Regions from separate parts of the Homo sapiens genome. Here region 1 is linked to region 2. Evidence: fine-mapped expression QTL. A gene starts in region 2. The other region holds a variant in brackets. All regions are shown on one strand. Distances are between the middles of the regions.

The links. PIP is the estimated chance that this variant, and not a neighbour inherited with it, causes the effect.
Region 1: its variant is fine-mapped to the expression of CRYBB3 in thyroid (GTEx, PIP above 0.99).

What each region holds. Positions count from the first base shown.
Region 1 is chr22:25,041,269-25,046,638 of GRCh38, forward strand. KIAA1671 reads left to right here. Exons shown (of 13, transcript NM_001145206.2): 5 at 1-257. Among named protein-coding and RNA genes, the nearest start is that of KIAA1671-AS1, 69 kb to the right of the region's middle. The variant T/C (reference allele first, on the strand shown) is at 3,157.
Region 2 is chr22:25,197,034-25,202,403 of GRCh38, forward strand. It overlaps CRYBB3 (crystallin beta B3), which reads left to right and starts at 2,825. Exons shown (of 6, transcript NM_004076.5): 1 at 2,825-2,876; 2 at 4,344-4,438. The coding sequence starts at 4,364. KIAA1671 reads left to right here. Exons shown (of 13, transcript NM_001145206.2): 13 at 1-415.

The DNA.
Region 1 (5,370 bases), 160 kb before region 2:
CCGGGCGGGGAGAGGAGGACAGTGTGGCCCAGTGGGGTGACCACCCACGTGACTGTGGACGGGTGCCGCTGGATATCAAGAGGGCCTACTCAGAGAAGGGGCCCCCTGCCAACATCCGAGAGGGCCTGTCCATCATGCATGAAGCCAGAGAGAGGAGGCGAGAGCAGCCCAAAGGGAGGCCCAGCCTTACTGGAGAGAATTTGGAGGCCAAAATGGGACCCTGTTGGTGGGAGTCAGGGACTGGAGACAGTCACAAGGTAAGTACCGAGACACTTTTTAATTTTGTCAAACATGGTTTAAACATCTAGTCTAGGGGGCCGAAACTCAGATTTTGTGTGGCCCACTTTGGGTACATAAATGAGTGGAGTCAGGCTGGGTATGAGGCTCCAGGGAGGGGTATGGATTGTGGCAAATGGAGAGCTCATGCCCTATCTGAACTGGACAACTGCTGCTTGGTCCCACCTGGTTCTTTGTTTGTTTATTTGTTTGTTTGAAACAAAGAGTCTTGCTTAGTTGCCCAGGCTGGAGTGCAGTGGCATGATCATGGCTCACTGCAGCCATAATCTCCTGGGCTCAAGCCATCCTCCCGCCTCAGCCTCCCAAATAGCTGGGATGACAGGCATGCGCCACCATGCTTGGCTAATTTTTTATTTTTTGTAGAGACAGGGTTTTGCCATGTTGCCCAGGCTGGTCTCAAACTCCTGGGCTCAAGTGATCCTCCTGCCTCGGCCTCCCAAAGTGCTGGGATGACAGGCGTGTGCCACCATGCCTGGCCCAGCTGGTTCTTCACAGGCAGGAATGCTGGCCTTGAGATGGCAAACCTCATTTATCAAGAGAATCTGAAAATCTAGATTTTTATGTGTAATCCTCCCATTAGGAAATGAGGAGGACTTATTTTTAAAAATGCTGTTCAGCCCAAACAAGACTTGTCTGCTAGCCCCATGCAGCGCGCCGGCCACCTGTTTTACACTTCTGTCCTACAATGACGATAATGATAGATATCAATGGTAGCTTTATTGTGCTCCTGCTGTATAATAGCCTGTTGTATCCTGTTCATTATTATGTCCCCAGAATCCAGCATCATGCTTGACATACTGTGAATGTTCAAGAAGTATTTGTTGAATGAGTGAACAAGTGATCTTACGTGAGCCTCAAAAGAGGGATCACCATGGTTTTGGGTTCCAGCAGTCCCTTGTTTTTTTTTTTTTTTTTTTTTGAGACGGAGTCTCACACTGTCACCTGGGCTGGAATACAATGGTGTGATCTTGGCTCACTGCAACCTTCGCCTCCTGGGTTTAAGCGATTCTCCTGCCTCAGCCTCCCAAGTAGCTGGGATTACAGGAGCCCGCCATCATACCCGGCTAATTTTTTGTATTTTTTTTTTTTAGTAGAGACGGGGTTTCACTATTTTGGCCAGGCCGGTCTTGAACTCCTGACCTCGTGATCCGCCCACCTTGACCTCCCAAAGTGCTGGGATTACAGGCGCGAGCCACTGCGCCCGGCCTGTAAGCACTTTTTAAGGGGGTGATCCCAGGAAGAACCAGTAGGGGAGAGAAGAAGTGAGGCAGGTGCTACAGGGGCCATGGTTGGCCACAGAGGCACATCTCACTGGGGACCCCGGGAGGCAGCATGGAACACCTCTGAAGTTGTCATGTCCAGGGGTCAAGGGACCTGGAGTATGTATTTTCCAATCCCTCTGTCCTTGCCTGAGGCTGTTTGTGGGGTCATGAACATTCAGACTTTTCCATCCTGGCTGGCACCATGCACAGCAGAAGAAAGAAAATCTGGCTTCCTTTGTTCAGTGAAGAACAGAGAGAAAGAGAAGAATGGATGGCAGGGTGGGGGGTGGGGAGGAAAGGAGGAAGGGATCACTTTAATTACAAGCACACCCTTTTGGGGGTACATAAGCAGAATAGCTGTGAAGAAACCCTCACCCAAATAAGCCACTTTGTTTTTAACACACACACACAAATTCAAATCTACCCAAATATCTATCAGTGAGGCTCTAGGGTGTTGGCAGAGGGCCCCTTCTCTTGATCTTTGGCATATACCTGAGTGTTGGGCAGAGTGCTGACACTACCTACTGCTGTGTGATCATCTTCCTGTACAGATGGGGGGAAAAAAACAGAGGCTCAGAGAGGTGAAATAACTTGTCCCAGGTCACACAGCAGTAAGTAACAAAACTGGTATTTGAACCCAAATCTGGCCTTAATTACCCAACTGGGCCATATTCTAGGAGACCATTCTGGTGAAGAACCACGAAGGTGGGGAAGAAATCTGAGGCATAAGGACCACCCTTTGAAGCTTCTGATCTCTGTGGGGAGATGGGCCATTGTGATCCAAGACTGGGGAGTGATGGGGTGCAGAGGGAGGCACTGGAGAGGTGGCCCAAGGTGTCCTGGAGGAGTCGGTGGTCTCAGCCCAAGCTTGAGGGTTGGCCATGCTTTTGGGTGGGCTGATGAGGGGAGGTGAGGGCATTCTCAGCAGGGCACAGCATGGACAAAGGTTTGGAGGTGGGAAGAGCGTAGAATGTTGTGGGGGACATGTGGAAATGGACTTAGCACCGCCCTGTGTGATGTGGCATCAGCAAATCAGGCCACAGATTCTTCCTTTGCCACTTGCAGCTGAGTGATACAGGGCAAAACCTTTCACCTCCCTGCACCCGAGTTTTCTTGTCTGTAAAAGGGACTAGGTGGCCAGTCTGGAAGTGGATGCTGCAGAAAGGAAACTCTAGGATACAGTCAGTAATGATCATGCGGTGAGGATTTGCCTTCAGTTAAGAGTGGGTAAGTGATGGAGTCAGGCTTTGAACCCATGTCTGTTCCCAAGAGGCCAAGCTCTCCAACCACCATGTGCAGGATCACGCAGACTTGGCATCTGAATCTCCACGCTGCTACTTGCCTGCTGTGTGTAAAGCAGCCTCTTGGCCTCTCCTGGCCTCAGTTGCCATGCCAGAGTTAACAGGGATTCCTGCCCCAAAGCACTGTTATTAGACTGAATTGAAATAAAGCACCGAACTTGGGCCATCCCCGTGTGCTTCCTGAGAAGGGTTTCATCTGTCCCTACCTGCAGGCTGATGTTGTGGTAACAGTGGAAGAAGGAAGAGGCCAAGGAAATGCGACACTTATGTTTGCCAGCACCTTGCTCAGGGCCCGC[T/C]GGTGGTGGGGGAGTCGGGATGTTGTGGAGGGGGGATCCTGGGCTCAGCTCTGTCCCGCAGCCCAGCCTTGGATGCCTGCCTGGAGCACGCAGGCCCCAGCAGTGCTGGTTGTCAGGGGATCTGTTTTCTCACCACGGGATTGGGAAGCCTTGGACCAGCTTCCCGTTTCTCTCTTGTCTCCTGCCAAAAGATCTTTGGTTCTTTGATCTTAAAAAAAAAAATAAAAACACACCAATACAGAAGGAAAAAATGTTGGTTGTTAAAATTTTGAACCTTACAGGGGTATAGAAAATAAAAGGTGAGTGTTCCCCCAGAGGCAGCCACCATTACATTGTTTATGTCCTTTCGGACTTTCCTATATTGACAGTCACTTATCAATCATATATATATGCATAATTGTCATGCTTTTCATATTGCAACAGTAGCGAATGCTTGCGTAAAATGTGAAATACTGGCTGGGCACGGTGGCTCATGCCTGTAATCCCAGCACTTTGGGAGGCCGAGGCGGGTGGATCACGAGGTCAGGAGATTGAGACCATCCTGGCTAACACGGTGAAACCCTGTCTCTACTAAAACTACAAAAAAATTAGCCGGGCACAGTGGCGGGCGCCTGTAGTCCCAGCTACTCCGGAGGCTGAGGCAGGAGAATGGCGTGAACCCGGGAGGCGGAGCTTTCAGTGAGCCAAGATCACGCCACTGCACTCCAGCCTGGGCGACAGAGAGAGACTCCGTCTCAAAGAAAAAAAAAAATTTTGAAATACTATAGAAAAATGGTGTAGAGAGAAAATCTCCTTTAAATATTGAGCGTGGTGCATAAACTGGGGAACACCCCTCTAGGCCCATTAGTGGTTTTTAACTATGGGCAATTTTGCCCCTGGGGCACATTTGGCAGTGTCTGGAGACATATTTTGTTGTTGTCACACCCTGGGAAGAGGTTGCTATTAGCGTCTCATGGGTAGAAGCCAAGCATGCTGCCCAACATCCTACAAGGCACAAGACAGCCCCCACTGCAAAGAATGCTCCAGCCCCAAGTGTTTGCAGTTTGTAGGTTGAGGAACCCTGGTCTAGACACAGACATAGATAAAGGTAAATGCATAGACTTAGATATAGGTAAATACATAAGCTTTCTATGGAAAACTACAACAGTCTATAGAAAATCTTGTGGCTTACTTTTGTTTTTTGAGATGGAGTTTTGCTCTTGTGGCCCAGGCTGGAGTGCAGTGGCAGGATCTTGGCTCACTGCAACCCCCGCCTCCCGGGTTCAAGTGATTCTCCTGCCTCAGCCTCCTGAGTAGCTGGGACTACAGGTGCACACCACCATTCCTGGCTAATTTTTTGTATTTTTAGTAGAGATGGGGTTTCACCATGTTAACCAGGCTGGTTTTGAACTCCTGGCCTCAAGCAGTCTACCTGTCTTGGCCTCCCAAACTGCTAGAATTACAGGCGTGAGCCACTGCACCCGGCCTCCCCTTCCTCTTTTTAATGGTTGCGAAGTATTGTATTATGTGACTGAGCCCAATCTATTTTAACCTAGACTCTCATTGATGGGTATTTGGGTGGATTTGAATTTTTGTGTGTGTTAGAAACAGGGTTGTGCCGGGTGCAGTGGCTCACATCTGTAATCCCAACACTTTGGGAGGCCGAGGCTGGCAGATCACTTGAGGTCAGGAGTTTGAGACCAGCCTGGCCAACATGGTGAAACTCCATCTCTACTAAAAATACAAAAATTAGCCGGGCTTGGTGGCGGGTGCCTGTAGACCCAGCTACTTAGGAGGCTGAGGCAGGAGAATTGCTTGAACCCAGGAAGCGGAGATTGTAGTGAGCGGAGATCGTGCCACTGCACTCCAGCTTGGGCAACAGAGCGAGACTCTGTCTCAAGAGAAAAAAAAAGAAGAAGAAAAAGAAACAAGGTTGGTTCCTTGGGTGAGGGTTTCTTGATTTACAGCCCAAAAGGGTGTGATGGTCATTAAAGTGATTCCTTCCTCTCTCCATCCCTTCCTCTCTCCATCCCTTCCTCTCTTTTTCTCTGTTCTTCACTTAACAGACATTTATAGAAACTGTTTCCCAGACCCAACAGTATTTCATTTATTTAAATTATTTATTTTAGTTTTAAGAGAGAGACGATTTCACATGGCTCCACTCCAAAAATACTTAAAAAACATTCCCCTGATACCTGCCATGCTTACATTTCTTCCACCCGGTAATCACTTTTA
Region 2 (5,370 bases):
AGTCACGATAGAAAAGGAGCTCGAGTTCTTTGTGTAGGAAAGTTAAGCTTCCTGCCTGCGGTGTTCTTGCAATTGCCTTAGGAATTCACAAGCTCTAGGAGTTCTGAACGGAAGGCAGACGAGAGGCACTTTATCCAGTCCCAGAAAGAATCTCTAACCGTGTGACTGAGAAGTCATCTAGAAAAACTTATATTTTTAATGTAAAAACAAATGGGGCTTACCAGACCTCACAGAGTATTGGACGTCTACAAGTGCTTTTATATTTTGTAACTGTAAAGAAGTTTCATATGCACAGAAGAGCAGTTGGAAATCTGGTCGACTGCAATAAAACAAGATGACCTTTGCATGTACAAAGATGTTGCATTCAGACTATGAAAATAGCAAATAAAGCTTTGGTGCAAGTTGCATTGGAGAAGTCGGTGCGTCCATGTGTGAATGAATAGAGTCTCCCATGCATGCAGGCCCTGACTGGGGCTGGCTGAGTCAGTCTGTCCTGTGCTGAGCTGTGGGCCAGCCAGCGAGAGGGCAGAGCTGGGGTCCTGGGAGAGGGTGTCCATGCAGAATGGGAGGCCATGGAAACAAGGCAGGATTTCCATTCAGACTGACAAGGGGTTGAGTCCTCCTCCTGCCACCCTCTGGCTGTGGGATTTCTTTTAAACATTGGTTCTCCTTAGCTATACAATGGGAGTGGTGATCAGGACATTTTTGCAGGTAACAGTTTAAGGTGGTGGTTCTCAGCTGGGTGGATTGTGCCCTCCAGAGCATGTCTGGTAATGAAAGGAGGCATTATTGGTTATCACAAGAAGGAGAGAAGATGCTCCAGGAAGTGAGTAGAGGCCAGGGATGCTGCTCAGCATCCTGCAGTGCACAGGACAGCTCCCACCCCGACCCCACCACAAAGAATGACCCGACCCCAAATGGCAGTAGTGTCAAGGTTGAAAAGTCTAGATTGGGGAGATGTGGTACATCAAAGTGCTGAGCGTGCAGTAGGTCTGCAAGGTCCTCAAAGATGTGATGGGAGGGGGAGCCACGCCATCCCCACCTCTGCCTTCCTCCTTCTGTCCCAGCTGGTGGCAACTACATCCCAACTCAGGGGGTCCAAACCGACTGCTTTCTGTGACCTTCAGCAGGAAGTAGCCCCTTGGCTTGAACTGTCCAGAGTAGGCAGGATGCTGGGAATAAAAGTCAAAAATAACAGATACTGTGCGCAGTGCTTTGCTTGCATGACCTCCCAAAATGGCCCAAGTGGAGAGAAGGTTCTCCATTTATGGTGAGGAGACAGTAGCTCTGAGACCTTCAGGAACTCGTCCAAGGTCACACACATCTGCCTGACTCAGAGTCCAGCTGTCATCCACAGCATCTCACCACCATCTCCCTCTAGGGGGTACAGGGTAACTGTGTTTTTGTTTGTTTGTTTGTTTTTTGAGACGGAGTCTTGCTCTGTTGCCCAGGCTGGAGTGCAGTGGTGCGATCTCAGCTCACTGCAAGCTCTGCCTCCTGGGTTCACACCATTCTCCTGCCTCAGCCTCCCATGTAGCTGGGACTACAGGCACCCGCCACCACACCTGGCTAATTTTTTGTGTTTTTAGTAGAGACAGGGTTTCACCGTGTTAGCCAGGATGGTCTCGAGCTCCTGACTTCGTGATCCGCCTGCCTCGGCCTCCCAGAGTGTTGGGATTACAGGCGTGAGCCACCGCGCCCGGCCTGTAACTGGGTTTTATGCTGACTTGAGGATTTTAGCCAAAAACAAATACCAACAACAACAAAAGAAAACCTTGTTAACTCACTCCTTTGCTCCAATATAATTTTATTCATAAAATAATCACTTATTAGATATTGATTACAGGCAAAATTATACTTTGTTAGACACTTAAAAAATTCCTGGAAGCTGGGTGCAGTGGCACGTGCCTGTAGTTCCGGTTATTCAGGACACTGAGGAGAAAGGATTGCTTGAGCCCAGGAGTTTGAGTCCAGCCTGGGCAATGTAGCAACAACCTATCTCTAAAAAATAAAATAAAAATACCTGGATCTACCTTTTTTCTTTGGTCATAAATAAGTTGACTGTGATGGTCACTTTTATTTCTATTGAGGCTAAGATCCCAGGTCCTGGAGCAGGCCAGCCCCTTCTCTCTGCTGTGTGATTCTGAGTAAATGGGTTCACCTCTCTGAACTCAGTTTCTCCATGTATAAAGTGGAATCAGAATTCCTCCCCTAAGGATGGCTGGATGAGAATTCCATACAATGCTTGTGAAGCTGGCACAATGCCTTGCGTGTAGTAGGTGTTCAAGAAATGGTAGCTATTATTCGTGCGTGTCTTCTACATGAAGAAAGTCAGTCTGTGAGTTCTGTGACGGCATCCTATGGAAACGGTTGGGTGGATTTGCGCCCAAGTTGGAGAGTATGGTTAGCGTGATCTGACTTAAAACTTAGGCCACATGGCACATGGAAACTGGAGAGTGTCTGGGGTCCCTCACTTTAAGAACTAGAATTTTTCCAAAGGTTGCGTGTGACTCAATAGGAAATGGTGACCCCAAGAAACCAAAGAAAGGGAGTTGGTGGTTGTGGGGAGACACGGGAGAGCTGCACACCGTGCCCCTTGCCTGGCGCTGCTGGGCTTCCCACAAAGCCAGTGAGGTTCATCTGTCCCCAGGAAGTCATCAGAGACGGTGGCTGAGGAGACAGGCACTGGGGGCCTCCGTGGACCCGCTATTGGAGTGAAGTGGCCTGGATGGAATTGGGTGGACAGGGTGCTGCCTCAGCAGGCTGGGATGTGCTGGGCTGTCAGAAAGTGCTCATAAATAGCATGCCCCTTGCGAAGACAGGCGAGTCTGCAGACGGCCGTGGCTCCTCTGTTCTTCCCGAGGCTACAGCAACAGGTTCATTCTGGGATGGGTTGGGGGTGGGGAGGCAAAAGCCACCCTGGCAGGCCCGGACCTTTTGTAGTTTCTGTGGGACGCGCATGGCTGACCGCCTGCAAAGAAAAACAGCGCCTCCCTTAAGGGTCAGGTCCCAGTGAGAGGACCCTGACAGCCCAGCTGGGGGTGGAACGAGGGACCCTTGTCTGCAGTGGCCAGGGTCCAAGCCCCTGGACATGTGCTTAGGGCAGGGGACCTTCCAAAACAGCTCCTCTGAGGGAGGGGAGTGGGCACACATGGTACCTGCCAAGTCCCCCGAGAGTCCCCTGTGAGCTGGACCAAGCCCTGTTTCCTGCTGAGGCTAGGAGAGACAGAACCGACAGCCCGCAGGCTGTGCATGGTTAGGCCCACATCCAGAGTATGTGGGCTGTGCAGCTGTGCATGCTGGGGTGGCCGTGCTGGGAGCCGTGGGTGGGTAACAGTTGGATGTGGGGTGTAGATGTAGGTGCCTTGTTTACCACTGTGGATGTCTGAAATGGGCAGGGATGTGTGTGTGTGAGGAGAGAGAGAGAGAGAGAGAAAGAAGCTGTCCTGTGAGCCCATGGGTGAAATATAACTGATAGTGACCATAGAAACTTTTGCGAGTGTGTGCACCTATGTGTGTGTGCTGACAAACAGAACAGTCCTGTGTGTGTCCATGGGTGCAACAATGATGAGAATCCTTCCATGTGACTGCGGCAGGGGCCTGTATTGCGTGTCACTGTCCCTGTAGCAATGAAGAACTGTCGGTGTCTGGGTCTTGAAGTGGCTGGTACACAGTCGTGTTCAATAAATGCTTAAGGAATGAGTAACCGAACGCAGGGAAACTGACCTGGAGCAGGTGTCCAACGACCTGGTCTTACAAGCCTTTTCTCTAGAGGTCTGTCTGTCCACCTCCCGACATATGGGGTCTCCTGTCCCTCCTGGTCACCCAGCCCAGAGCCTGGCACTGTGTAGGTGCTCATGGAATATTTGTTGAATAAAGTAACCAGTGAACAAAAGAGTTCCTGGAGTACGGAGGTGGGAGAGACCCCTGTAGAGGAAACTCCCTGAAGCCCACCCTTTAGCCAGGTTCTGGGGGTGGGACATCTGCAGAGAGCTCTGAGAAACCTGGGTTTCGGGGAGCATCTGGATCAGGGGAAAAGGGCACGGGCTTTGGAGCCAGGCCCGACCCAGGCCACTTCCTCACTGTGTGCTTGAGGAAGTGGCCTCACTTTGCTGAGCCTCAGAGTTCCCCTCTGTACAATGGGGCTCCTGATCCCACTGTCTCAGTCCACGTGGCCCATGGCAGGTGCTCAATGGATGTTTGCTGAATGACTGAATGTCGATCATAAGTTACAGCCACGCCCCATGGGCAGCAAGGCTCTGTAGCTCATCCTGGACTCCAGTCACATCAACACCTGGCTTCTCCCGGGTGGATCCAGTGAACCATTTTCTTTTGGTTTGAAGCCAGAGGTGTTCCTGGGGAGATGGCGGAACAGCACGGAGCACCCGAACAGGCTGCAGCTGGCAAGAGCCATGGAGACCTTGGGGGCAGCTACAAGGTACTGGGCAGGGAGGGGGTCAGAGGGCCCAGGCTACTCCTGGGCCTCAGGGTCATCTTCCCAGCCAAGCAGCACCTCTGCAGGAAGGAAGAGCCATCCTTCCAACCACCCAGGCCAGGACAAAACGCTCCGGGTGGGTCCTCTCACTGCCACCCTCCCGTTAGAAACTTGCTTCATGACTTTGCTGCATCTTCCCTCGTCTGCAAAACAGAAATGGTCACCCACATCCTGCCTGCACCAATGGATCAGAGAGGCCCGGGGGTTTCTGGAAACGGCTCTGAGCTCTGACTCTCCTGTCTGACCTCAGCCTGGTGTCTTGCCCACTCTGGGGAAAAGGGCACAGGGTTTGGAGGCTCTCTGGGCCTCAACAGCCCCATGTTTGAAATGAGGATGGTGCCCAGATATTGTGCCCAGAGTTGGTGTAAAGGCTGAAAGACATGAGTGAAGCCAGCTAGCAGAGGGAGGCACACTAGAAATCTGAGAGAAGGTTTGAATGTGTTGGCTCTGCCCTTTCCAAACCATCTCCGGGGTCTTTTTGGGAAACTATTCCAGACAGAGTCTAAGGATGGGTCGAATCCCAGTGCCTCCTCTTAACTTGCTGTGCAGCCCGAGGCAAGTATCTTACCCTTTCTGAGCTTCTTTGATCCCTTCTGTAAAATGACTAGAACAGATGTTCCCTGGGGATCTTCTACAAAGTCAGTTTGTGTTTCCAGGTGGGTGAGAGAGGCAAAACCTTGGTCTGCCTTTGCAGCCCTTCTCTTCCTAGGCTTGGGGCAGGCAGAGGTCTTCCCCGAGACTGCAAACAGGTGTTTTCATTTTTTTAAGGGGGAAATTTCCTATTAAGGAAAATACAGATTTCTGACCTCTCTTGAAAAAATTGGAACTGGGACCTCATTCCCTCATCGCCAGAAGCAGCTTCATTTCCCCACCGA